Homo sapiens: one gene and its partners. The protein of the gene in region 1 purifies or fractionates together with the protein of each later gene. This does not show direct contact. Each region holds a gene or a part of one and is shown on either strand. Other genes may lie near its edges. The genes, in order: HSPBP1, NT5C2, ELF2 and EDRF1.

Region 1 (6,849 bases):
AACCTTCTGTGAGCTCTGCTGCTTGGAGTAAAACAGCATTTACCTCCCCATCTGCGAGGCCCACCCCAGCGCTGTTTCCTGCGCCTGGCCCCTCACTCACTCTACTCTGCCTCAAGGGCCTGGCTGCTGTTCCTGAACACACCAGGCACACTCTGGCCTCAGGGCCTTTGCACTGGCTGTTCCTACTGTCTGGAATGCTTTTCCCAGAGATCATCCCACAACTCTCACCTCACTTCAGGTCTCTGATCAAACGTCACCCCGGGGAGGCCTTCTCTGCCACCCCACCCATGCCACTTTCCCTCTTGTACTCTGGGGAGTGGCAGTGGACACCCAGAGGACTAGGAGAGAAACAGCCATCTCAGAGCTGATCAGGGAAGTGGGGGACTCCACCTGCCATGAGGGTGAGGCAGAGCCTTGCTCCTTATGGCAATGGAGGCGAACAGGCTGATGGTGAGAAGGCAGCAGGGAGGCTGACGGTGTGAGCCCCAAGAGTAGGGGCAAGAGCTGAGAGGCAGCAGGACATGTACAGAGGGGCAGAACGTCCTGGCGGGGGAAGCGGGGTACCTGCGGCATTGTCCATGTTCTCACACAGGTCGGCCAGCAGCTCCAGGGCCCCCTCTCGCTCTTGCTGGTCGGCCGCCTGCTCGGCCTCCCCAGCAGTGGGGGGCATGGGCTGTGACAGCACTCGGAGGCAGCTCTTCATCTGCTCCACCTCCTCCCGCTGGCCTCGGAAGGCAGCCGACATGGCCTCCTGCAGCCACTGACGCCTCTGGAGACCAAGGCGAGGAGGAAAGAAGGAGATCCATCAGTCATTCATTACAAAGGAACAGCCATTAATAAAGACAGCCAACAACTGAGGGCTGATGTTCCTTCAGTCAACAAATATCGGCTGGGAGCTGTGGCTCATCCCTGTAATCCCAGCACTTTGGGAGGCCGAGGTGGGTAGACTGCCTGAGCTCAGGAGTTTGAGACCAGCCTGGGCAACATGGTGAAACCCCGTCTCTACTAAAAATACAAAAATTAGCCAGGCCTGGTGGCGTGAGCCTGTAATCCCAGCTACTCGGGAGGCTGCAGCAAAGGGAATCGCTTGAACCTGAGAGACAGAGGTTGCAGTGAGCCAAGATCAGGCCACTGCACTCCAGCCTGGGCAACACAGTGAGACTATCTCAAAGAAAAAGGAGATGAGAGCTAATACGTGACTGCTGGAATTTTTGGGGGTGAGGGAGGGGAGCAGAGGTCTCCTTAGTCACAGTTCTAAGTAAATTTGAGTGAGCTATTTAATGTTTCTGTGCCTGTTTCATGCCTCACTGTTGTAAAGGTTCAATGATATCATATATGTAAGTGGGTTAGCATAATGCTCTGTATACAGTAATTGTCGATTAAACATTATATATAATAGCTATCGCTATGAATCTGCAAAACAACTCTATGAGGTATATATCATTGTTATCCCCACTTCGCAGATGAGAAAGTTGAGTCACAGAAAGGTTGAGACTTACCCAAGGTCACACAGTCAGCAATTGGCAAAGCCTGAAATCAAACCCAAGCAGTCTAGGCTGGGCGTGCTGGCTCACATCTGTAATCTCAGCACTTTGGGAGGCCGAGGCAGGTGGATCACTTGACGCCAGGAGTTCGAGACCAGCCTGGCCAATGTAGTGAAACCCCTTCTCTACTAAAAATACGAAAATTAGCCAGGCATGGTGGCCCATGCCTCTAATCCCAGCTACTGGGGACGCTGAGGCATGAGAATTGCTTGAACCGGGAAGTCAGAGGTTGCAGTGAGCCAAGACTGCGCCTCTGCACTCCAGCCGAGACTGTGTCCTCCACCCCCAACCCTGCCCCCACCAAAAAAAAAAAAAAAAAACAGCAGTCTGACTACAGAGCCTGTGCTCTTCATGAAAACACACTGCTGCCTTCAGAAGCACTGTCTGTATGCTGGGCACTGTGTGCAGCCCTACTTAAAGTAGAACCTCAGAACTACCCTATACGGTAGTTATTATTATTATCAATTTGTAAATGAAGAACTTGAGATTCAGAAAGATGAAGTAATATACCCAAGGTCACACAGCTGGAAATGCTGAATCCAGGTTAGTCTGGCTCTGGAGAGGATATGTCCCCTCAGACTCTCTTGAGATCTGACCTTCAGTCAACGATAACCCCATCTAGCACAATTTATAGCCCACAATGCCTCCACACCTGGTTTTCTGCCTCCCACCCAAGAAGACCCTAGTCTTCTTGTGGCTCCCCAAGTCACACTTCCCAAGGCAACTCTATCTGTCCCCAGGCCCCTCACCCCAGCTTCTTGGGTCCCCATCCTTTACCTCCTCACTCATCGGTTCTGGAGGAGGGTCTGGCTCTTCAGAGCCCGCGGTGATGGCCATCTGCAGCAAGCCTTGGAGGTTGCGTGGGGGCCGGGAATTGCCCGAGCCCCCAGCCGAGGAGCCGCCGCCGCCGCCCCCTGAAGAGCAACCCTGGGAGGCCGGGGGCAGCGCCAGGGGCAGGCGGCTCCCCCTTGAGCCTTCGTCTGACATGGGCCGTTTGTGAAGAAGGGAAGAATGTGTTAGAGGGAGAAGGTGGTCACCGCTGAAGCAGCTCTGGCGTCCTGATGGGTCGATTCTTGAGGGTCTGCTGAGAAGGCGGCGTTTCAGGGGAGCTCGGCGACCCCCCATGACCCCAAACCACTCTGCCCCCAGCCCACTTAACCACAGCCCCTTTTCCTTCCTTCATACCCACAGGACCCTTCCCCAAAGTCATAAGCCTCTCCTTTCTCCCTAGCAACAGGCCCCACCCACTCTCCCTGGCAACAACCCCCCTTCCCCATCTCCACTGCGTGCGTCCCGTCTCTTAGCAACCTCACTGCTCCGCCTCCGTAGCAACAAGCCCGCCCTTTGGTCTCCTTAGCAACAAGTCTTCTCCCTCCTCTCCGAAGAGGGGCGCCGGAATAAGGCGGATCTCACCTCCCCGGGTCCTCAAGCCGCCGCTGCTCCTACAGACAAAGTCGTCCGCACCTGACTCTGCTGGGCGCCGCCATCTTAACCGGAAATACGCACGGTTTCACCCGGAAGTGCCAGGCGTACCCACCCAACTTCGTGCCGTGGTTGCGGCTGAAGCTGCTTGCCCGACTCTTATCCCCTTCTCACCTGGCGGGATACTGCACTCGGCCCCGCCCCTCCCATCCGGGCCCCGCCTCCAAGCTGGGACGCCCCTTCGTGCGGGCGCCGCCCCTTCACGCTCAAGTAGCTGGTCAAAGCCCTGCCCCTGGCCCAGTTTTCGCACCTCAGCGAGTCCCGCCCCCGATACTTTTGCAAGCTCCACCCCTCTTCTAACGTGTGCCCCGCCCCCAGGTCTGACCCCGCCCACCCTACGATTCCCGCCCCTGCTCTAGGCCTTTCAGACTCTCCCAGTTGGGCCCCGGCCCCTTTACAGGCCCCTCCCACTCATTGCTGTCAGTCATCCTTAGAAGGTTTGGGACCTCGCCCCAACTAATCTGACTTTCGCCTCCACCGGGGCCACCAACCCCATCTACAGGAGCCCTGGGGTCGCAACCGTAATGGCTGGCCTGTGAGCCTTATGCCCCCCGCAACCCCTCTCTCGGCCTCAGTTTCTCCATCTGTCAAGTGGAGCTGCGGCGTGGATCCCTCTCATCACCCAGCCTCTCCCTCATGGACTCTTCCCCATGTCCTGCCAGGTGGAGAGGAGAGGATTCTTGAGGCCTAGAGCCGGAAAGCAAAGTGCCCCAGAGCCCAGCAAGATTCAGAGCGCCAGAGGAGCCAGCTTGGTGGGGAGGCCCGAGGCCTCTGTGCTCCAGAAGTGGGGTTTAGGCCTGGGCACGTGCTGGTGCGGGCCGATCTGCAGAGGTGTTGGCCCTGGGCTGGGCTTAAAGAAACTCCCGTGTTGATCCTGGATAGGAGGCGTTTTCCTCCAGGAAAAGGTTGTGCTCAACGCAAAACGGGCACACAGTCACAAACGTATCAATCACCTGCTGGGCGTGGTTGTGCAGGGGGATATTTTGGGCAGAAACAGGAAGACCAAACAGATAGGTTGTGTGTGTATGTGTGTGTGTGTGTGTGTGTGTGTGTGTGTGTGGTGTTTCTAGCACTGTGCTGTGAGATGCATCTGGGCCTGTGGATGTGCTATTATATTAGTTTCCTATTGCTGCTGTTAACAAATTACTAAGAATGTGGTGGCTTAAAACAGCACACATTTATTATCTTGCAGTTATGGAGGGCAGAAATCCAAAATGGGTTTCACGGGGCTGAAATCAAACTGTCAGCAGGATTGCATCACTTCTGGAGGCTCTCGGGGAGAATGTTTTTCTTGCCTTTTCCAGCTTCTAGAGGCCACACTCTTTCTTTGACAGGTGGCCCCATCACCCCAAGTTCTGCTTCCACCTTCCCATCTCCATCACTGACTGCTCCTCCTGCCTCCTTCTCACAAATACTCTTGTGATTCCATCGAGCTCACCCAAATAACTGGGATAATCTCCCTATCTCAGTCACATGGGCAAAGTCCCTTCAGCCATGCAAGGTAACTTATGCACAGATCCTGGGAATTAGGACACGGACATCTATGTACAAGTCTATCAGTTTATAATACATGGCCGGGGGCAGTGGCTCAGGTCTATAATCTCAGTACTTTGGGAGGCCAAGGTGGGAGGATCACTTGAACCCAAGAGCTCGAGACCAGCCTGGGCAACATAGTGTGTCCCCAGCCCTACAAAAAAATACAAGAATTAGCCATGTGTGATGGCATCTGCTTATATCACAGCTAGGCAGGAGGCTGAGGCAGGAGGATCACTTGAGCCCAGGAGGTCGAGGCTGCAGGGAACTATGACTGCCCTACTGCACCCCAGCCTAGGCAACAGGGGGAAGACCCTGTCTCAAAAAACAAAACAAAACAAAAAAAAGAGGGTGATCATATAATTTTTCATCTATAGCAAGACATTTGAGAGCAAAAAGGGACTCAATAGTTACAGAACCAGGCCAGGTGTGGTAGCTCACGCCTGTAATCCCAGCACTTTGGGAAGCTGAGGTGGGCAAATCACAAGGTCAGGAGTTTGAGACCAGCCTGACCAACATGGTGAAACCCCATCTCTACTAAAAATACAAAAATTAGCCAGGCATGGTGGCGGGTGCCTATAATCCCAGCTACTCGGGAGGCTGAGGCAGGAGAATCGCTTGAACCCAGGATGTGGAGGTTGTAGTGAGCTGAGATTGTGCCACTGCACTCCAGCCTGGGAGACAGAGCAAGATTCCGTCTCAAAAAAAAAAAAAAAAAAAAAAAAAAAAAAAAAAAAAGGCTACAGAACCAGCCTGGCTAACAGGGTGAAACTCCATCTCTACTAAAAATACAAAAAAAGCCGGACGCCTAAAATTGTACCCTGCTCAACAGGCCCCTCTTAACCCCCTTCCCTGCTGTAGTCACCTCCTCAGCACGGACATGATTATCTAACACACCATACATTTTGCCTATTGACCTTGCTGATCATCTGTTTCATCCACCAGCATGGAAGCTCCACAGGACAGGCCTTTTTGCTGATTTAGGTCACTGCCACGTTCTTACCAACAGGAACAGTGCCTGGCTGAGATTTGGCACTCATTAAAGATGTGTGGACTCAAGGTGTTGAATGGGGGACTGGGAAATCTCACAGGAGCCAATAGGCTCCTGTGTGCACTTTATTTTATTTTATTTTTGTTAGAGACAGGGCCTCACTCTGTTGCTCAGGCTGGAGTGCAGTGGTGCAAACGTAGCTCACTGCAGCCTAGAACTCACTGACTCAAGCCTCAGCCTCCCAAGTAGCTGGGACTACAGGCACATGCCACCATGCCCGGCTAATTTTTAAAAAAATTTTTGTAGGGATGGGGTCTCACTGTGTTGCCCAGGCTGATCTTCCCACCTCTGTCTCCCAAAGTATTGGGATTACAGGCATGAGCCACCTTGCCCAGCCCTGGGTGTGCTTTACAGGGGACTTGAGAATTAAATGGGTGTCTAACACTTGCGGGTACATGACATAGAGGGATCTATGGTTTATGCGGAAAGCTAATGGGGGCAGGCGGGTTACTCACAGGCAGAGCACATGCTTGTGGACCTGCTACAGTGGGGATGTATGGGCTGTACTGGGGTCCACATGAAGATATAAAGGACCCTATGACGAGCACAGAGAATATATGGGGGTCTAAAAACATAACACAGGGAAACTGAGGGGGTTCTGGAAGCTTCTCTGTAAAGAGAATCCAAAATCACTCTGGGCTGTGGGTAGATATGGGGCCTTGACATTGGTGGGGACACAGACTTACCCTTACCCTGAATGGGTGGCCTTAGGGGGCTGGGGAAACAGACATGAATTTTGGGTCAGCAACTCCAAGAATTCTTTCCCCTCTCTGTCTCTGTCTCCCTCCATATGTCCCCACCTCTCCCCAGCACGTGTCCCTCCACCTGTGTGTACCCCCGGCCCTCTCTACAGCTCCATCTGCGCCCCCTCTCCCCCACCTCTCTGGTTGGTCTTCCTCTCTCTGTCTCTCTGAATCTCTGACTCTCTCCATCCCTCTGTCGGCTTCCAGCAGCTTTCTCTCCCTCTCCCTGTCTGTTTTCCCGGCTTGCCATTCCTTCCTTCTCTTCTGTCCCTGTCCATCTCTGCCCTTCCTCCCTCTCTGCCTCAGCCTGTCTCTGGTGGTCTCCATCCCTCTGGCGTCTCTGCCTGTCTCCCGTCTCTGTGTCAGCCAGCATCTCTCTTTGTGTATCTCCATCTCTGCCCCATCTGTTGGGTCCTCTCTCTCTCTCTCCATCCTTCCCTCCATCCTCTCTCCTGCATCCTCCCACCTCCTCTCCATCCCTCCAGCTGGAGGCCCG
Region 2 (4,768 bases), on another chromosome or scaffold:
GAGCTGAATACAGAAAATTATTTGAGTAACACTTTTCTCAATTCTCCTAAAGATGGTAGATAGAAGAAAATGTGTTACATACAGTAGATGAAGGAGGGCTTGTCTTGAGGAACCCAGACTGACAAAGGCTGCAACACACCGGCAGCATGCTGTAGATGCTGGCTGTTGCTGTTACTGTCTGTACTATCAGTGGGATTTTCTGGCTAGCCTTTCATTCACATTTTCAACTTTCTACCTATGAAGTTTTAGAAATCTAGTTGATTTGGCCCTGGACCTGTGACTCAGGAAAAGTCACCTGATTCTCAATCTTTCATCTGAAAATGGGACTGTTAACATTTGCTTAGCTGACTGCACCTGAGACAGCATGTAAATTCTGGTACTTTACAAGCTCAGAATGAGCGTGCAGCTGGAAGGGAAAGTTGTCATCATGGTGTTTAAGCAGGAGGAAAGGCAGTTAAAGAGAAGGTGATGGTGTTCATCTGTTGTCAGACTCCAAGCAGGTATCAGTGAGTTATCCTGAAGAGGGGAAGAGGAGGTAACTGTACACTCAGCATGTTAGTCCCAGGTTCTACTTTCCAGTCACATCTGCAACCTTTTAGTTTAGCAGCAGTTAAGAACTAGGTGCTTATTTATTTAAAATGTCTTCCTTTTCCTTCCAAACCTTAACTAGCACTTTTCGAAGAACTTCAGAGCTTGGATATTTTCTTGGCTGAACTCTACAAGTAAGTTTTCTAAAAATTTCTTTCCCAAAAACTTACTCAGGAATCACTTAGATATAAGAAATGTTCTTTCCAGGCCAGTAATCCCAGCTATTTGGGAGGCTGAGGCAGGAGAATCGTTTGAACCGGGGAAATGGAGGTTGCAGTGAGCTGAGATTGCACCATTGCACTCCAGCCTGGGCGACAAGAGTGAAACTCCGTCTCAAAAAAAAAAAAAGTTCTTTCCAGGCCAGGCGCAGTGGCTCATGCCTGTAATCCCAGCACTTTGGGAGGCCAAGGCAGGCGGGTTGCTTGAGGCCAGAAGTTTGAGACCAGCCTGACCAACATGGCAAACGAAACCCCATCTCTACCAGAAATACAAAAAGTAGCTGAGTGTGGTGGCACATGCCTGTAATCCCAGCTAATTAGGGTGGCTGAGGCAGGAGAATCGCTTGAAGCTGGGAGGCAGAGGTTGCAGTGAGCCGCGATCACACCCCTGCACTCCAGCCTGAGTGACAGAATGAGACTGTCTTAAAGAATAAAAAAAAGCTCTTCCCAGAGATTTTCACTGAGTTTTTCTTTTATCTTTAGGCATCTTGACAGCAGTAGCAATGAGCGTCCAGACATCAGTTCCATCCAGAGACGTATTAAGGTATCCAAATGGGATTTGGGAGAAAACTTGGGAAATAAGTTTAAATGCTTTTTTCACATTCCTGATTTATTATAGAGACTAGCATTCAACTACTGCTCAATAAATATTTGTTGAATGAGCCAAGAATCAATCTTGTTCTTTGTTTTAGAAAGTAACTCATGACATGGACATGTGCTATGGGATGATGGGAAGCCTGTTTCGCAGTGGCTCCCGGCAGACCCTTTTTGCCAGTCAAGTGATGCGTTATGCTGACCTCTATGCAGCATCTTTCATCAACCTGCTGTATTACCCTTTCAGCTACCTCTTCAGGGCTGCCCATGTCTTGGTGAGTTAAAGCTGTAATGGACAGCCAAGATGTACTCTAAGCCCAGGGTCAGCAACCACCTTTGTGAGATGGCACAGGAGATAGTTTGAACATTTCTTTCTGATGTACAGAGCCCAGGGGCAGGTTATATGGTTGCATAAGAAGGGGTCTTTGAGAAAGTAGAACCAACATTGGAAGTTAAGAGTGTAACTTTACTCTCTGAAGTCTACTCTATTAAAAGCTGTATGTGGGCCAGGCATGGTGGCTCATGCCTGTAACCCCAGAACTTTAGAGGCTGAGGTGGGAGGATTGATTGAGCCCAGGAAGTCGAGGCTGCAGTGGGCTGTGATTGCTCCACTGTACTCCAGCCTGGGTGACAGCGAGAGACCATCTCAAGAAAAAGAAAATGTGGTTTTTACATTCCTTTATTCTGATCTGTTTCAGGACTATCTTGTTTTTGCTGTAAAATAGAAAGTAAACTCCCCTCTCCATCTTTTCCAATTTCCAGCTGCAGTAGACAATATGGGCACCATTTTGAGGGGCAGGGAGAGAGGAAGACAGGCAACTATAAGTAGTTCTATGAAGATAAGTCTATATTGACTTGTCCTGTGGTCCATTATAGATGTAATTGCATGGCCACCTAACAGAGGAGAGGGGTTAGGATTTGGGGAGTAGCTACTTTGCTCTGCCTGCTTTCTGAGCCTCTAGCTTTTTTCTGTCTAGATGCCTCATGAATCAACGGTGGAGCACACACACGTAGATATCAATGAGATGGAGTCTCCTCTTGCCACCCGGAACCGCACATCAGTGGATTTCAAAGACACTGACTACAAGCGGCACCAGCTGACACGGTCAATTAGTGAGATTAAACCTCCCAACCTCTTCCCACTGGCCCCCCAGGAAATTACACACTGCCATGACGAAGATGATGATGAAGAGGAGGAGGAGGAGGAAGAATAAGGAGGAAAACCAAAACCCCAAGCACCCATTAAACAAGTCCTGGCAGGACTCACAGGAACAAACGAGGTCCCTGTTAGGGTTCTACTCGGGGGAGGGAGGGGGCTCCATGAAAGGTACGTCTGAAAAGTTTCTGAAGATTTTATTATCATAGATACTTGTTTTGGTTTTGTGTATCTGTACTCTCTGCAGATGGTCCAAAATTGTAATGGAGTCTGTATTAGAAGAAAATAAGGGTAAAATCAGGCTGAACTGCATGTATATGGCTCCACTGTGGCTTGTGACACTTTTAAAATCATCCGTATGTCAGTGTATCTGGATACACGAGGAAAAGGAAAGAGTCTCAGAGTGGAACAAAGAGTGGGAAGAGGTGATCTGTAATGTTACAAATTGTGCTATTACTCCAAGGTCCAACTTTTCCAGTGCATTACATGGTATTGTATATCAGTGGAGAAATGTATTATTTCCATGATCAAATGTAGTCTCTGTTAAGGTCAAGTTTTCTTTTATAAGCCTTTAATTCATCCTCAGTGACTCTGGCAAGGCTGCTTCTCTATCACTGGCTTTGCACAGAAGTATGCTCTACTTGCGTTGCTTTAGGGCAGGATTCTATTTTGAGGGAAAAGACAGTATCCTTATTACCTTTTGTTTGTTTAATAGCACAAATGCTTATTTGTTATCCAAAAACAACCTCCTTCTTATCTGTGATAAATCTATAGAAAGAATTTAGCTGCAAGTGGACAAAGGAACAAGCCCCCAGAAAAGAAAGGGAAGAACTGCCTTCTTATACTACAGAACATGCATTAGTGTGGGCTATATAGCTGTGGCTCATGCTACCCAATTCCAGATTTCTTTGTCCTCTAAGAGTTGATTGCTGTATATTAAAATTGAACATCAGAGGATGGGAAGAGGGCTCTGTAAGCCAGAACCTTACTAAAGTAGAGGGCACAATCAGTGTGAATAAATTCACTTCAGAATCTCAAGTCAAGGCCAGGCACGGCGGCTCACGCCTGTAATCCCAGCACTTTGGGAGGCCGAGACAGGCGGATCACCTGAGGTCGGGAGTTCGAGACCAGCCTTACCAACATGGAGAAACCCCATCTCTACTAAAAATACAAAATTACCTGGGCGTGGTGGTGCATGCCTGTAATCCCATCATCTACTCAGGAGGCTGAGGCAGGAGAATTGCTTGAACCCAGGAGGCGGAGGTTGCAGTGAGCCAGGATTGTGCCATTGCACTCCAGCCTGGGCAACAAGAACAAAACTCCATCTCAAAAAATAAAAATCCCAATCCCAAGTCGAAATCACCTCTTGTTTTAAACAAGAATGAATCATTACTGTGTATGTTAGGGTATTAAAACTGTTTCACCAGTACAGTGAAAGTTGTTTCAACATTTTAAACAAACAGTGGTTATAGACTCTTTCTTTAACCATTGTATATTTTCTTCCATTCTTGTCATTGGTCAATAGGGGAGGGTAGATTAGCTGCTCCAGAATTCAATAAAGTGTAATATTTCTAACGGTGACTTTGACCTATTCTGTAGTACAACTGTAATAGCTATTGGTCTTCAAGTGGGTTTAGATTTGGTGACATCAGTTTGATATTCTCTTAAAGGAAATAAATATTCAAGAACTGATTATGTTCTAACATGATTATATTCATGGTGTTACATAGGCCTCAATTTTTTCACAGAAAGATTTTTGGAACAGGACTGTGAAGTGAGGCTTTTTAAAAAATTATTTTATAAGCAGAGAACACAGCCTGATAACTTAGTCAAGGATATACTGTCTGTCTCACTACTTTGGACTTATATGGCTTCAGATTAAGTCATCCAAGAAACATACATACATTCTAAATGGTATATATTGGGAATATATGCCCCTTTAAAAGAATCAGGTCAGAAATGCAATAACAATTAGACTAGACTGTTGCCCGTGTTAGGAGAATGTGTGGTCATCCTAGTTACTAATTACTCTCACTCAAGATGGAGATGTTGTCCAGTTTAACATAGTCTTAAGTTTTCTTAAACCCAAATAATTTATGAGTAGCTTATTACATCTGCAGAGCTACCTTATTATAATAGTACATTTACATATTGTCTCTTTTAGAGTAAGGACCACATGATTGCTTTGCTTTAATTTACCACTTTTTGTATT
Region 3 (7,033 bases), on another chromosome or scaffold:
TTTCTTTTTTTTTTTTTTTTAAGATGGAGTCTCGCTCTGTCGCCTAGGCTGGAGTGCAGTGGTGTGATCTGGCTCACTGCAACCTCTGCCACCCGGTTCAAGCGATTCTCCTGCCACAGGCGCATGCCACAACACCTGGCTAATTTTTTTTTTTTTTTTGTATTTTTAGTAGAGATGGGGTTTCACCGTGTTAGCCAGGATGGTCTCGATCTCCTGACCTCGTGATCCGCCCGCCTTGGCCTCCCAAAGTGCTGGGATTACAGGGGTGAGCCACCGCGTCCGGCTAATCTATTTTCTTTTTTATAGAGATGGGGTTTCACCATATTACCCAGGGTAGTCTTGAACTCCTGGGCTTGAGCAATCCTCTCTCTTTGGCCTCTCAAAGTGCTGGGATTTCAGGCTTGAGCCACTGCACCTGATCCTTTTTAATTAAAAAAATTTTTTATAGTCTTTTTTTTTTTTTTTTTTTGAGACGGAGTCTCGCTGTGTTGCCCAGGCTGGAGTGCAGTGGCACGATCTCAGCTCATTGCAACCTCCGCCTCTCGGGTTCAAGCGATTCTCTTGCCTCAGCCTCCCAAGTAGCTGGGACTACGGGCGCGTGCCACCACGCCCGGCTAATTTTTTGTATTTTTAGTAGAGATGGGATTTCACTGTGTTAGCCAGGATGGTCTTGATCTCCTGACCTCATGATCCGCCTGCCTCGGCCTCCCAAAGTGCTGGGATTACAGGTGTGAGCCACTGCACCCACCCTGTAATCATTTTTTTTATTGATGAGTAATATTCTATTTATGGACATATTACATTTTATTTATCTGTGCATCAGTTGATGGACATTTAAGTTTCTATTTTTTTGGGCTATTATGCTGCTATGAATATTCATGTTTTTGTGTAGATGTGTTGTCATTTCTTTGGGTATGTACACTTTTTAATAAATTAGCTTTTGACTTACCTGATACCAAAAAAATTATCCATTTTGAGTATATAATTCAATAATTTTTAGTAAATATATAGATCGTGAAACTATCTATCACCTTGAGCTAGTTTTCGAACATTTCCATTGCCTCCAAAATTCCCTCCAGCCTGTTTGCAGTTAACCCTTATTCCCACCCCCAGCCTCAGGCAATCACTGATTGGTTTTGTCTTAATCCATTTGCTTTTACTGGATATTTTGTATAAGTGGAATTGTACAATATGTAGTCTTTTGTATCTGGCTTCTTTCACTTAGCATAATGTTTTTGGGATTCATTCATATTGTAGCGTTTATCAGTTTTTTGTCCCTTTTTACTTTGGAATAGTATTTCTTTGTATAGGTATATGATAGCCCCCCCCCCCCCCCCCCCCCCCGTTATCTGTGTGGGATACATTCCAAGACCCCCAGTGGATGCCTGAAATCTCAGGTAGTATTGAACCATATATTATTTTTTTCTGTATCTGTATACCTAGGATAAAGTTTAACTTGTTAATCAGACATAATAAGAGATTAAAAACAATACAATAGAATAGTTACAACAATATGCTATTCACAATTTCATAGAAGATTTCTTACTGTAGGTGTTAGCAAACAGCATAAAGTTTTTTTCTTGTTAAATTGAGAACTTTCACTTTTTCACTTAAAATAAGTATTTTACAGCTTCTTTTTGGCATATCCAGTTGTCATCCTCATTACTCTTGAGTGTTTGAGCCATTGTTAAGTAAAATAAGGGTTACTAGCACTAAGATACTAGTTGATCTGATAGCTGAGATGGCCACTAAGTGACTAATGAGCAGGTAGTGTAGACAGCGTGAATATGGTGGATAAAGGGATGATTCATGGCCGAGGCAGAGGGGCATGGTATGAGGTTTCATCATGCTGCTCAGAATGGCACTCAATTTAAAACGTAGATTATTTCTGAAATTTTCCATTTATCATTTTCAGACCATGTTTGACTGTGGGTAACTGAAACTGCAAAGTAAAGCTGTAGGTAAGGGGAGATTACTGTAACACACTTTAGCTGTTGACCAGTATATATAGGTGTTTCGATTATTTCCAGTTGTTGACTCTTTAAATAATACTCAAACATTTGAGTACAAGTCTTTATGTGGACATATGGTTTTGTTTCTCTTGGTTAGCTATCTAGGAGTAGAATTACAGCATCATACGTTTAGCTTTTTAGGACACTGCCAAACTGTTTTCCCAAAGTGGCCATAACGTCTTATATTGCTAACAGCAATGTTTGAGAGTTCTAGTTTTCTTCACATCTTTGCCAACACTTATTATTGTATTTCTTTTTTAATTATAGCTGTTCTAATGGATATGAATTTGTTTGTTTTTGAGTCACTCTGTCGCCCAGGCTGGAGTGCAGTAGTGCAATCTCAGCTCACTGCAACCTCTCTCTCCTGGGTTCAAGCAATTCTTCTGCCTCAGCCTCCCGAGTAGCTGGGATTACAGCCGAGCACAACTATGCCCAGCTGATTTTTTGTCTTTTTAGTGGAGACGGGGTTTCACCATGTTGCCCAGGCTGGTCTCGAATCCTGAGCTCAGGCAGTCCTCCTGCCTTGGCCTCCCAAAGTGCTAGGATTACAGGCGTGAGCCACCATGCCCGGCCTGATTTTGTTAATTTGTTGTGTTTTTTTTTTTGTTTTTTTCTCTGTGTACTGTTTAGTGGAGTCATTGTGATTTTAATTTTAATTTTCCTTATGACTCATAGTATTGAGCATCTTTTCATGTATCTTTTTTCTTAACCCATTTATGCCCGAAGTTGCAATTTTTTTTTGTGAAAAAGCAGACCTTGGCGATGACCTTGAGCAGTAGGATATTAATAATTCCCACAAGCTTAGCATTCCAAAAATGGAACACTTGGCATAAATGGGCTGGCTGGAGTGCAGTGGTGCGACCAGAGCTCACTGTAGCCTTGACCTCCTGGGCTCAAGCAGTCCCCCTACCTCAGCCTCCTGAGTAGTTGGGAATGGGGAATGCAGGTGCATACCACCATGCCCGGTTAATTTTTTATTTTTATTTTTTGTAGCGATGGGGGTCTCACTGCATTGCCCAGGCTACTCTTGAACCCCTGGGCTCAAGCAATCCTCCTGCGTTGGCCTGCCAAAGTGCTGGGATTACAAGCATGAGCCACCGTGTCTGACCCATCTTTTTTGATGACATCACTATTCAGATCTTTTGCTCCTTTTAAAATTGGGTTGTTTGGGCTGGGTGCGGTGGCTCATGCCTGTAACCCCAGCACTTTGGGAGGCTGAGGTGGGTGGATCACCTGAGGTCAGGAGTTCGAGACCAGCCTGGTCAGCATGGTAAAACCCTGTCTCTACTAAAAATACAAAAATTAGCCGGAGGTGGTGGCGCATGCCTGTAATCTCAGCTACTCAGAAGGCTGAGGTAGGAGAACTGCATAAACCTGGGAGGCGGAGGTTGCAGTGAGCTGAGATTGCAACACTGCACTGCAGCCTGGGCAACAGAGCAAGGCTCTGTCTCAAAAAAATATAATATAATATAATTAATATAATATAATATAATATAATGTAATGTAATATAATTGGGTTGTTTGACTTATTGAGTTATAAGAAGTTTTTTTTTTTAGAAATATATTCTGGATGTAAGTTTTTTAGTAGATACATGATCTGCCAATATTTCTTTACAGTCTGTTGCTGGTCTTTTCATTGCTTAAAAAATTGGTGGCTGGGCGTGGTGGCTCACACCTGTAATCCCAGCACTTTGGGACACTGAGGCTGGTGGATCATGAGGTCAGGCATTCGAGACCAGCCTGGCCAACATGGTGAAACCCCATCTCTACTAAAAATACAAAAATTAGCCGGGTGTGGTGGTGTGCACCTGTAGCCCCAGCTACTTAGGAGGCTGAGACAGAGAATCGCTTGAACCCGGGAGGCAGAGATTGCAGTGAGCCGAGATCGCACCACTGCACTCCAGCCTGGGCAACAGAGCGAGACTCTGTCTCAAAAAAAAAAAAAAAAAAAAAAAGGCGATTAAGATCTTTTAAAGTGTAATTAGTTTAAATTTTGATGAAGTGTGGTTTCTAAATTTTTTCTTTTATAGATTATACTTTTGTTGTCTTATGTAAGAACTCTGCCTAATCCAAGATCTTGAGATTTTTCTGCTTTCTAGAAGTTTTATAGTTTTAACTCTAACAGTTAGATTTTATCATCTATTTTGAATTAATTTCTGTGTATGGTGAGAAATAAGGTTCTAAATTCATCTTTTACATACAGATGGTTCTGTCAACCTAAGTAAAAGACAGTCCCTCTGAAAGAAAGCAGTATTTATTCAGGAATGGGCATTATAATGGGAATATGCATACCGTAGTAAACTATGTGCATATTCAGGGAGGTAAAGGAAGACATAGCTTTTTTTTTTTTTTTTTTTAAGACAAGAGTCTCGCTCTGTCGCGCAGGCTGGAGTGCAGTGGCGAGATCTCAGTTTATGGCAAGCTCCGCCTCCCGGGTTCACGCCATTCTCCTGCCTCAGCCTCCCGAGTAGCTGGGACTATAGGCGCCCGCCACCATGCCCAGCTAATTTTTTGTATTTTTAGTAGAGACAGGGTTTCACCGTGTTAGCCAGGATGGTCTCGATCTCCTGACCTCGTGATCCTCCCACCTGGGCCTCCCAAAGTGCTGGGATTACAGGCATGAGCCACCGCGCCCGGCCAAGACAGATTTTTAAAGGAAAAATGAGGAAGATTACATCATTGTTTTAAATCAATTATGTTTGGCTATAAAGATCAGTGACAAGAGTGATGCCAGTCTGAGGTTGGACATGAAGTTACTGGGCAGATGTCCTTGCAGAAGTATTTTTTTGTGTAAGGTTGCAGTTGCCTTTGTGCAGGGTTGTGGCCTTTATGAGTTTTTTTGTGATAGTTTTTTTTTTTTTTTTTTTTAAATGTAGTCCCGCTCTGTAGCCCAGGTTGGAGTGCAGTGGTGCGATCTCGGCTTGCCGCAACCTCTGCCTCCCGGGTTCAAGTGATTCTCCTGCCTCAACTTTCCACGTACCTGGGACTACAGGCCTGCGCCACCATGCCTGGCTAATTTTTGTATTTTTAGTAGGAATGGGGTTTCACCATTTTGGCCAGGTTGGTCTTAAACTCCTGACCTCAAGTGATCTGCCTGCCCTGGCCTCCCAAAGTGCTGGGATTACAAGCGTGATCTGCCTGTCTCGGCCTCCCAAAGTGCTGGGATTACTGGCGTGAGCCACCATGCCCGGGCAATAGTTATTTTTTTTTAATCAGGTATTCATGCATGAGAACCCTCCTTTCATGGCCTTCCCTGGCTCCATTTGTCAGGGCTTTTAACACAAATGACTCAATTTTAATTCTAACAACTTTCACTTTTCCCCCTTTTGATCAAAATCTTTCTTTGGACCCAGGCACAGTGGCTCATGCCTGTAATCCTGGCGCTTTGGGAGGCAGAGGCAGGAGGATTGCTTGAGCCCAGGAGTTTGAGACCCACCTGGGCAACATGGTGAGACCCTGTCTCTAAAAAAACAAATAAAACAAAAGGGATCTTTCTTTGGAAGCATCACTGATCAATCATCTTGTAGTTAGGTTTTAATTATCTTTAGGTGCCAGGATGGACCTGTCCTGGGTTGTTGGTATGGTCCCATGTTGGAGGGAGTGCTTGTCAAACTAGGAGTCAGTGTCAGGACCCTTTCAGTCACATTTGAGCACACAAGGGAAGTTTGGAGGGAGTGATTCTCAGGCTAAGTCTGCCGGGAATCCATTATTAAGATCAGTTTTTGTCTGTTCCTTAAATGTAGGCTATCATCTCAGGGTTTAGGGCCAGCCCAGTATAATTCTGTTGGGTCAGTATAATTCTGTACTACTACAGAAATGTAACAAATAACATGTACAAAGTTTAAAAAGGAAAATACAAAGTAAAATTAATAGTAATATAATACCAGTTTACATAATGGTTTTGAGCCATGAAGCTAGACCTAAAGGCAGTCAGTTGAAGAAACCAAGTGACCATGGAGAACTAGATGAGACCTGTTGTAACCATGTGATCTGTTTTCTTATTTTGCGTATGAGTCTCAACTTCCTCAAAGGAATTTATCCAGGTAAATCATGTAGTATTAGTAATAGCACAGACATTTCTTTACTTAACCAATAGCTAATGCAGAGCATTGTTATCATTCGGCATTCCATAACTGGGTTGAATTAAAGCAGAGTGTGAATAATTTTTTTAGGGATGTTGCCAGAGTCACCCACTAGGTGGACTGAAGGATCTCTTAGGTCAAGTTCTGTCAAGTTACCAGCAGAAGCTACTGATTGTGAAATTTCAGTTACAACATTATCTTGCCAAGTGAAAAAGCTACGCCTTAAGAGGGGTAAGAGTCTCCCCTTGTTCAATTATCTTGGGAAAACCTGTCTACAGTGCGGAACCATCGACTTCTCATCCTGGTTTGCAGTTTGAATGTCTCTGGTTAAGGCATTGGGCAGTTTGGTGAACTTTTCTGTGTGGCTCAGACTTCGAGTACCAGACTTGTCCCTTAAAATTCATCGAGTTTCAGCTTATAGGGCTTCAGGAACAGAGCAATTTCTGTTTTAATAATTCTGTGGAAGAAAGTTGGATTGGAGGAACCTAGAAGAATTTAGGATCTAGGCCAGTTTGCAGGTAGATAATAAAAACTCAAATACAGTGTACAGGGCTACAGTCTAATAATAGATACAGTAGTTTTTCTTTAGAAGCATAACTTTTTATAGTCATCCCAGTTTCTACCAATCAGAATAAGACAAATTTGTTTATAAAATAGTTTTATTAGTTTTTTGTCTGATTATTTACATAAATGCAGCAAGAATAGCTGTTGACCACAAAGAAATCTCAGATTTATAAACCCTTCAAGACTAGGAAGCCAAACCAAGGGAGACATTAGATTTCACCTACAGCCTTAAGGTTCCTGGGCTGGCCAAGAAGTGACAGATTATATTCTCTCACTGTAGGAATGGGAACACCTGAACCCAGACATTGTGTGCACATTCTTAAATAAGATATTCCAGTCAAAGTCTTGGTAATATAACTAACGTTTCTAATTGTA
Region 4 (7,033 bases), on another chromosome or scaffold:
TGGCCATTTCAACTGGCAGGGGAAGGAGGGAGGGGAAAAAACCTAGAGAAAGAGGAAGATGCCCAAATAGATGGAACACTGATTCTTTTTTGAGACGAGTCTTGCTCTTTCGCCTAGGCTGGAGTGCGGTAGCATGATCTTGGCTCACTGCAACCTCAGTCTGATGGAACACTGATTCTAAAGGAAGAATTTAAATACCATAAGCTTGAGGAGGGGTATGATGTTAGTTCACCTGAGACGTAAGCTGACTGCTGGGTATCTGCCTCCTCCAAATATGGGCATGTTGGAGCCGACCAACATATGGATATCTTCAAATGTCCATAGAATATTCCGAACAAAATCATTTTTAAGACCCTGTGATTTAAAATAGGGAGGATTATAATAAACAGTCAATCTGTAATTTCCCCCCATGATCCATAAAAAGACTAGAAAAAGGAAGAGACAAAGAAGACAAAGTCAGGCCCCAGAGCTAAGATCACAAAGATGCTTAGAAAGCAGTTTCAGGATCAAGTGGAGTTTTTCCCTATCAATTTCGACTTAGGCTAGTTTTGAAATGACAAAGTAGACTGGGGATTTGCTGTCACCTTGGACACCATGGAAAGCATACCTGACTGTGCTCCCCGTCATTGAATAAAGTAATCAGGTTTTGTTCTTTGGGGGCTGAGGCCACATGCCCCACTATGTATGAGGGTTCAAGAGGCTCACTTCCCTGTGAAAAGTGCAAGGATAAGGAGTGATTCTGCTGTCAACATTTCTTAAAATTGACCCACTTTTGAGAGTATCACCTAAATATTCAAAGCACACACTTCAAATCTACCATTGTGAATTATTAGGCCAATACAAATAATAACACGCCTCATTGGGTGGCTTGCTTTGGCTAATGATCATAGCTACTATAAGAAGCGAATCACATTTAGATCTTACTCAAGAGAGATAGATTAAAGATTATTCTAAACTTTCTAAGTTTTTCATTTTTCTCTTTTTTGGTGCATCTGATTACCACTGCTCTTTCAGCCTACTCTATCTATATTGAATTTAAAAATTCCTAAGAAACTGGCCAGGCACGATGGCATGTGCTTGTAGTCCAAGCTATGTGGGAGGTCGACAGGGGAGAACTGCTTGAGCCCAGGAGTTCGAATCCAGCCTGGACAACATAATGAGAGTCTGTCTCTTAAAAAAAAGAAACCCTAAGAAATCTTACTCAGCCACAGTTTGAGATACTCATTATCTTAACAGTCTCCAGTTTAGCATTTCCTGATGAGTGTTTCACAGAACACTAGTTCCTGGGAAACTGAATGAAAATTTTCCAGAGTCAGGTTTGAAAGATGACGTTTACCAGGTACTCACTTTTGTGGAGTAACAATATTTATTGATATTAAAACAATAAATATATAATAAGTAATCCTGCAATAGAAAAATCTACTTTATCTTTGTAAAAACCAATGTTTCCCAAATGTATTTAATCTCAGAACACTTTTTGTTCTTAAGATATTCTCTGGAATACTTTTTTTTTTTTTTTTGAGACAGAGTTGCCCAGGCCAGAGTGCAGTGACATGATCTCAGCTCACTGCAACCTCCGCCTCCTGGGTTCAAGCAATTCTCCTACCTCAGCCTCCCGAGTAGCTGGGATTACAGGCACGTGCCACCATGCCCGGCTAATTTTTTTTTCTTTTTTTAAATAGAGATGGGGTTTCGCCATGTTGGCCAGGCTGGTCTCTAACTCCGGGCCTCAAGTGATCCACCCACCTCGGCCTCCCAAAGTGCTGGGATTACAGGCATAAGCCACTGCGCCCAGCCTGGAATGCATTTTGGAATACACTTGGGCCCTCTTGACACTGGGTAAACTCAGCCTACCACTCAATTTTCCAATCATTAGGAAAGTAGTACTGCCATTAAGAAATACTACTTTAAGCTTTTAATGTCATTGCCTCAACAGAACCCAAGACAGGCATGCGTGTGTTGCTTATTCCACAAACATCTGTCTTACTTGTCATCTGTGTGTGCCAGTAGGCTTGGCACCTGCTTGGGAAGAGTGTGTGACTATAAGCACAGGTGGCTCTCTAGCACTTCTATTGTGCCTTGTCCTCTCCCTCAGGAGTCCTAAGAGAACTTTAAACTCTTTTTTATTTTATTATTTGTTTACACAGACAAGTTATCAACTCATGAACCGATTCTCAAAACAGTTTGCCAGGCAGTTGCTTTAGTCAGAGTATGAGCTCTAGGTTACAACGTTCTCAATAAATGTCTGGCTCTAGGACCATCCCACAGTCACCTATTTAACCTCTATAACTGCTTAACAAAGGCCTCAAGCCAGCAGTTTTAGTTTTTGGAACAAGAATTTGTGCAGAGATAGCTTGCAAATATAAACAAATCTCTAAAGCTGAAATTTAAGCAATATAAGAAAAGTACTCTGTAAGAGACTCTTAAGGCAGGCTAGCTGTGCCTAGGGATACACCACTACTACGATGATCTGACTGTTAGTAGGGCCTTGCTGTGTGTGGAGTACACGGACACAGTGGAGTACTGCTGGAGGAACAGGCCTCTGCAGGCAGAAAGATCTGGGTTTAAGCCCTAGCCTGAGAGTTTCGCCAGCTGTATGACCATGTGAAACATCTTTTGATGAGCGTTAGTTTACTTATTTGTACAATACGCAGCTCCAAGAATGAAAAAAAAAACCTTGTACAAACATACACATGGCATAAGAGCTATTCAGTAAATGCCAGCTTGCTTCCTCAACACGCAAGTCTACAGATTCCCGACTCTCCAAGAGTTTTCACAGTAATTCCTAAACAAGGTAAAGACAGAACAACACTGGGAGATGGGTGACATGGGTAATAGGAGGGTAGTATTTGTATTATGTAGTCTTTTCTCCCTTCTGAATCATAGAACATCCCTACTTCTTGGTTGTTACCACTATGTGACTTGCATATTAATTACTTCCTTTTCCTTACATTTTTCTCACTTTTGAAAGAAATTTAAATTCATTATGGAGTTTTATGGGATGCTTTCTCTATCTTAAACCTACTGAAACTAAAATCGAGTTAAATGTATCTGCTCCCTGTAATTTGTGAAGATTGAAACAATCTGGTTGAATAGTGCTCAATATGTGGGAACACAACAGCAAGAGGGAAGACGTAACTTATCAAGTCACAGATCTTATTATCTATTTATCAATCTATTTTCCTGAAAATAGACATGTCACAATTTACATCTATGGCTTTATTTTATTCTTTGATAGATACAGTAAGTACAAAAATAAACAAGCATTAGGAAGAAACAAGGATGTAAGAGATAAAATGGACAACCTAGTTCATTCTCTTTTCTAAAACTTTTATAACATGAATGTGGACTAAGTTTCAGGAATTTTATCTGGAAAACCTTAAAGGGATATTTTAGGTCTAACAATCTGACTGAAAGTTATGGTAAAAAGGTTAGAACTTAAATTACAAATGGGTCTCTGAGTCTCAATATTTGGTAGGAAATGTCTATCAAATATTGACAGATATTTATAGTTAAAATAGTATTTATAGTTAAAAATGACTAGTATTTATAATTAAAATATACTATATCTCTATATAATACTCATCACTTGAAGGAGATAATCAGTATTAATAAACATATCAGTCAACTATTATATTTCGATTTAATAAAAAAATCTGATCTCCCCACCTATAATAGCTCTTGTAAATTCTATTGCGAAAAACTAAAAAGTATTTCTCCAATTCCATAAATTGACAGAAGTCTTTTTTCCCCCATTCCATAAGCTGACAGAATATTTCTTAGTCCTGTTCATCTTTTTTTTTTTTTAACGAGATGTTAAAAAAGGCTTTGTTTTCCTATGTGAGTTTCTAGAATTAGCATTTAAGTACTAACCTGACTGGAAGCACTGGGATCTTCAGAAACTGAAGAAGGCATTTCGAAGGGAGCAGGCCATGAAGCCCCTTCCGAATCATTTGTCTGATCTGAACTGGACGATTCCTGCTGTTCTGCGGTGGATGAGACAGGCTGAGCGGCTCCATCACCATTGATACTGGCCAAACCAGAAATAAAAAAGGATTGCTGTTACTAAAGTTAACTTCATGCAACAGTCTACCCGTTTATAAAAACTACAATCTGTAATTAAGCATACATCTTGTAAAAAAGAAATATGAAACAAATGTTAACAGTATCACAGGGGCAAAACTTAAATTATAACTTCATTAAGCTTCACACTAAATTTTAGATCAGAATTCCCTTTTTCTCTTTAGAGATAAATAAGTAGCCAAGTACCTGTAATATAAAAACTTGGAAAGAATTGCCTTTTGATACCAGTGCTCTTTGCTCTTTTTCTTCCTCTGCCACTTCTGATCAATGAGTCTTTGATAAAACTCTTTCAACCATGTCCAGTCACCAGTCTGGATAACATGAGATACATATTATTAATACAACACACATAGTCGAAACAATGTTACCTAGTACTAGCTTACAGAAAAGGCTCCTATTATTTTTTGAATAGTTTCATAAACACATACTCATTAAAAACATATCTTTCTGGGTCAATTCATACCACCTTTCTTTTGTTTTTTGTTTCCTAAAGGAAACCCGTCTTCCTCCTCCTAAGCCAGGCTGGGAGAGGTGAGTCTTCTCTATAACATGTTCCTTAGCAGCTGCAGTAGTTCCCACTTTGCACACTATATTGAAATGATCTGTGTATGTGTTTATAACCCCAAACAATGAACTGCTGAGGAGCAAGGCCTGTGATTTGTTCACTGTCACATCCCCGTGCCTAGGCTCATACTCACATGATGAACTAAACGGTGGTCTTTTCAAAGGAAAAAAGCACTTATTTTAAATGTCATTTACCTCACCATAATTTAATTTTCTTTATCAAAGCACTGTAGTAATATTCTTTAAAGACTGACCATGAACTATTTCTTGCCAGCCCAAGAAAAGTACAGATATGGAGGGTAGTTCTTGAGAAACTGCAACAATGTTATTATGTTTTTCAAAAGTATCCATTCTCAACATGTGGGAAAAACAGTCCTTACCAACATACAATTTGAGAATCTAGGCTAAAGAGCATCAATTAATTCTAATAACTACAGCCATGTGTCATTTAACAATGGGGATATATTCTGAGAAGCGCGTCATTAGGTGATTTTGTCCTGGTGTGAACATCGCAGAGTGTTACTTATAGAAACCTGGATGGTACAGCCTACTCCCTACCTAGGTCATACGGTATAGCCTATTGCTCCCAGGCTACAAATCTGTACATGTGACTGAAGTATTTGTGTATCTGAACACTGCAAATACAGTAAAAATACAGTATATTATAATCTTATGGGACCACCGGTATATGCAGTCCATCGCTGACTGAAACGTCATTATGGGAACATGACTGTATTTATTCATAGGAACAGCTTCTAATATTTTTCACATTTTCCAGTAGCTGTGTTTCCTGAGAATCTGTTTAAGGGAGACGTTAAAGGATTCTTAAAAATATTAAACTAGTCCCTTAAATTTCACAGTTTTTTTCACAACTTTCTTCATTGGCTTCATCTTTTTTCTTGTAAAAAAGAATCTGGCTGTTGGAATCAATAAAATAATTTTCTTCACCATTCTCATTCTCTTCTTTTTTCTTCATTCAAGCTTTTCTATCTTCAGTGAAACTTTCAATTTCTCGATTGTTGAAGTACTCAACTACATTTCCACTTTGGCCATTCTCTGAAACAAAATCGTATTTCTAGTGCTCTTAAGCTGTTAATGTTTTGTTGGATTTTTTCACAAAAGCATTACCTGAGACGATCTCATAAAGAGTTCTTGAATATCTAGCTCATCTAGTAAGAGAGTCCTTCCTATGCGGTGTACTGCCATGCTCACGTGCGACTTGCTGTAGGGAATTTTCAGGAGTTTTTTTATGTTCTTAAAAAATTAAGAGAAAAAATAGTTTAGAAAGACTGTTTTAGTGTGATTTGGAATCTTTTAAATTTTAGCTTCATTCATTTTAAAGCATAATAAACCTTATTTCCTTAAGGTTATACAAATAGAACTTTAAACAAAAAGCTACATGCAAACACACAGAGGACGGAGCTTTCAAACCAGAATCACGTACACTTTATGAGTCACATTATGTTAGTGACAGTCAAACATTTATTTTTACATGATAGGATTTCTTAAAGTTAAGGGTGTATACGTCACACTGTTATGCTGACCCAGGCTTTTAGCATATCAGATCAAAGCCACTAAGGATCCAATAGATTTTACTAGAAATATCATTTGTAACTCAACTGGTAACATATACAGAATAATCCCAAACACTATTATCAGTTTCAATTACTATCATTAAAATATAACCATCAATATATTATTACCACTGCCAGTGTTTGGGGATTGATTATTCCTTCCTCTTTAAATACAAATGTGGTAAACAATGATACTTTAACAACAAAAAAGATACTCAATAATCAGGTAAGTTTTATCTTATTTCATCACTAATTTCTCAAGACTTGCACATTTATATTATGCAAAACACAGCATGATATAAAACACCTATCACAAAACACCTCCAAAATTACATTAAGCGACAAATAACACTTACTTCAGAGTCAGAGACAACATCCACATCATTTCCCACTGAATCAATAAAGTCATATGCCATGCCAAAGCTACCAAAGAGAAAAAAGGACACAGGTTATGAGGTCATGCTCATAATCATGCAAGTAGAGCTTAATAACAATACTGTAGCTCATTGCTTCTAGGATACACATTTTCCACATTTTAACAACTCTGAAACCAGGATGTGTATCACCATCACAGTTGGCAAGTTTTTTTTTCTTAGTGGTACTAAAATAATGGTGTGTCTTAAAGTCAATGGCATCTTAGATTTGATAAAACATGGTAATAATCATTAGAAGCATCCAGTAGGAAATATTTAGAATAAAAACAATTATTCTTTATTTTTGTAATCACAAAACTCAAAGTCTCCAAGGGAAAATAGTTCAAAACTTTATTCTTTTTAGGTGGAGAGATAAGAAAAACAGAAACAGAAACATTT

What was found.
Region 2: the proteins of HSPBP1 (region 1) and NT5C2 purify together in Homo sapiens (affinity purification with mass spectrometry; 4 studies listed by BioGRID and IntAct, with this or other methods). This does not show direct contact.
Region 3: the proteins of HSPBP1 (region 1) and ELF2 purify together in Homo sapiens (affinity purification with mass spectrometry; 3 studies listed by BioGRID and IntAct, with this or other methods). This does not show direct contact.
Region 4: the proteins of HSPBP1 (region 1) and EDRF1 purify together in Homo sapiens (affinity purification with mass spectrometry; 5 studies listed by BioGRID and IntAct, with this or other methods). This does not show direct contact.

Annotation. Positions count from the first base shown.
Region 1 is NC_000019.10:55,277,078-55,283,926, forward strand, and holds the start of HSPBP1 (hsp70-binding protein 1), read right to left. Parts: upstream 3,034-6,849; 5' UTR 2,958-3,033; exon of another isoform or gene 2,853-2,957; intron 2,780-2,852; exon of another isoform or gene 2,670-2,779; coding exon of another isoform or gene 2,532-2,669; coding exon 2,322-2,531; intron 770-2,321; coding exon 565-769; intron 1-564. UniProt on the Homo sapiens protein: Inhibits HSPA1A chaperone activity by changing the conformation of the ATP-binding domain of HSPA1A and interfering with ATP binding. Interferes with ubiquitination mediated by STUB1 and inhibits chaperone-assisted degradation of immature CFTR.
Region 2 is NC_000010.11:103,087,518-103,092,285, reverse strand, and holds the end of NT5C2 (cytosolic purine 5'-nucleotidase), read left to right. Parts: intron 1-670; coding exon 671-722; intron 723-1,289; coding exon 1,290-1,350; intron 1,351-1,498; coding exon 1,499-1,675; intron 1,676-2,063; exon of another isoform or gene 2,064-2,377; coding exon 2,378-2,614; 3' UTR 2,615-4,248; downstream 4,249-4,768. UniProt on the Homo sapiens protein: Broad specificity cytosolic 5'-nucleotidase that catalyzes the dephosphorylation of 6-hydroxypurine nucleoside 5'-monophosphates.
Region 3 is NC_000004.12:139,167,194-139,174,226, reverse strand, and holds part of ELF2 (ETS-related transcription factor Elf-2), read left to right. Parts: intron 1-5,370; exon of another isoform or gene 5,371-5,460; intron 5,461-6,184; exon of another isoform or gene 6,185-6,325; intron 6,326-7,033. UniProt on the Homo sapiens protein: Isoform 1 transcriptionally activates the LYN and BLK promoters and acts synergistically with RUNX1 to transactivate the BLK promoter. Isoform 2 may function in repression of RUNX1-mediated transactivation.
Region 4 is NC_000010.11:125,722,679-125,729,711, reverse strand, and holds part of EDRF1 (erythroid differentiation-related factor 1), read right to left. Parts: intron 6,645-7,033; coding exon 6,578-6,644; intron 5,902-6,577; coding exon 5,776-5,901; intron 4,395-5,775; coding exon 4,270-4,394; intron 4,031-4,269; coding exon 3,874-4,030; intron 710-3,873; coding exon 608-709; intron 355-607; coding exon 233-354; intron 1-232. UniProt on the Homo sapiens protein: Transcription factor involved in erythroid differentiation. Involved in transcriptional activation of the globin gene.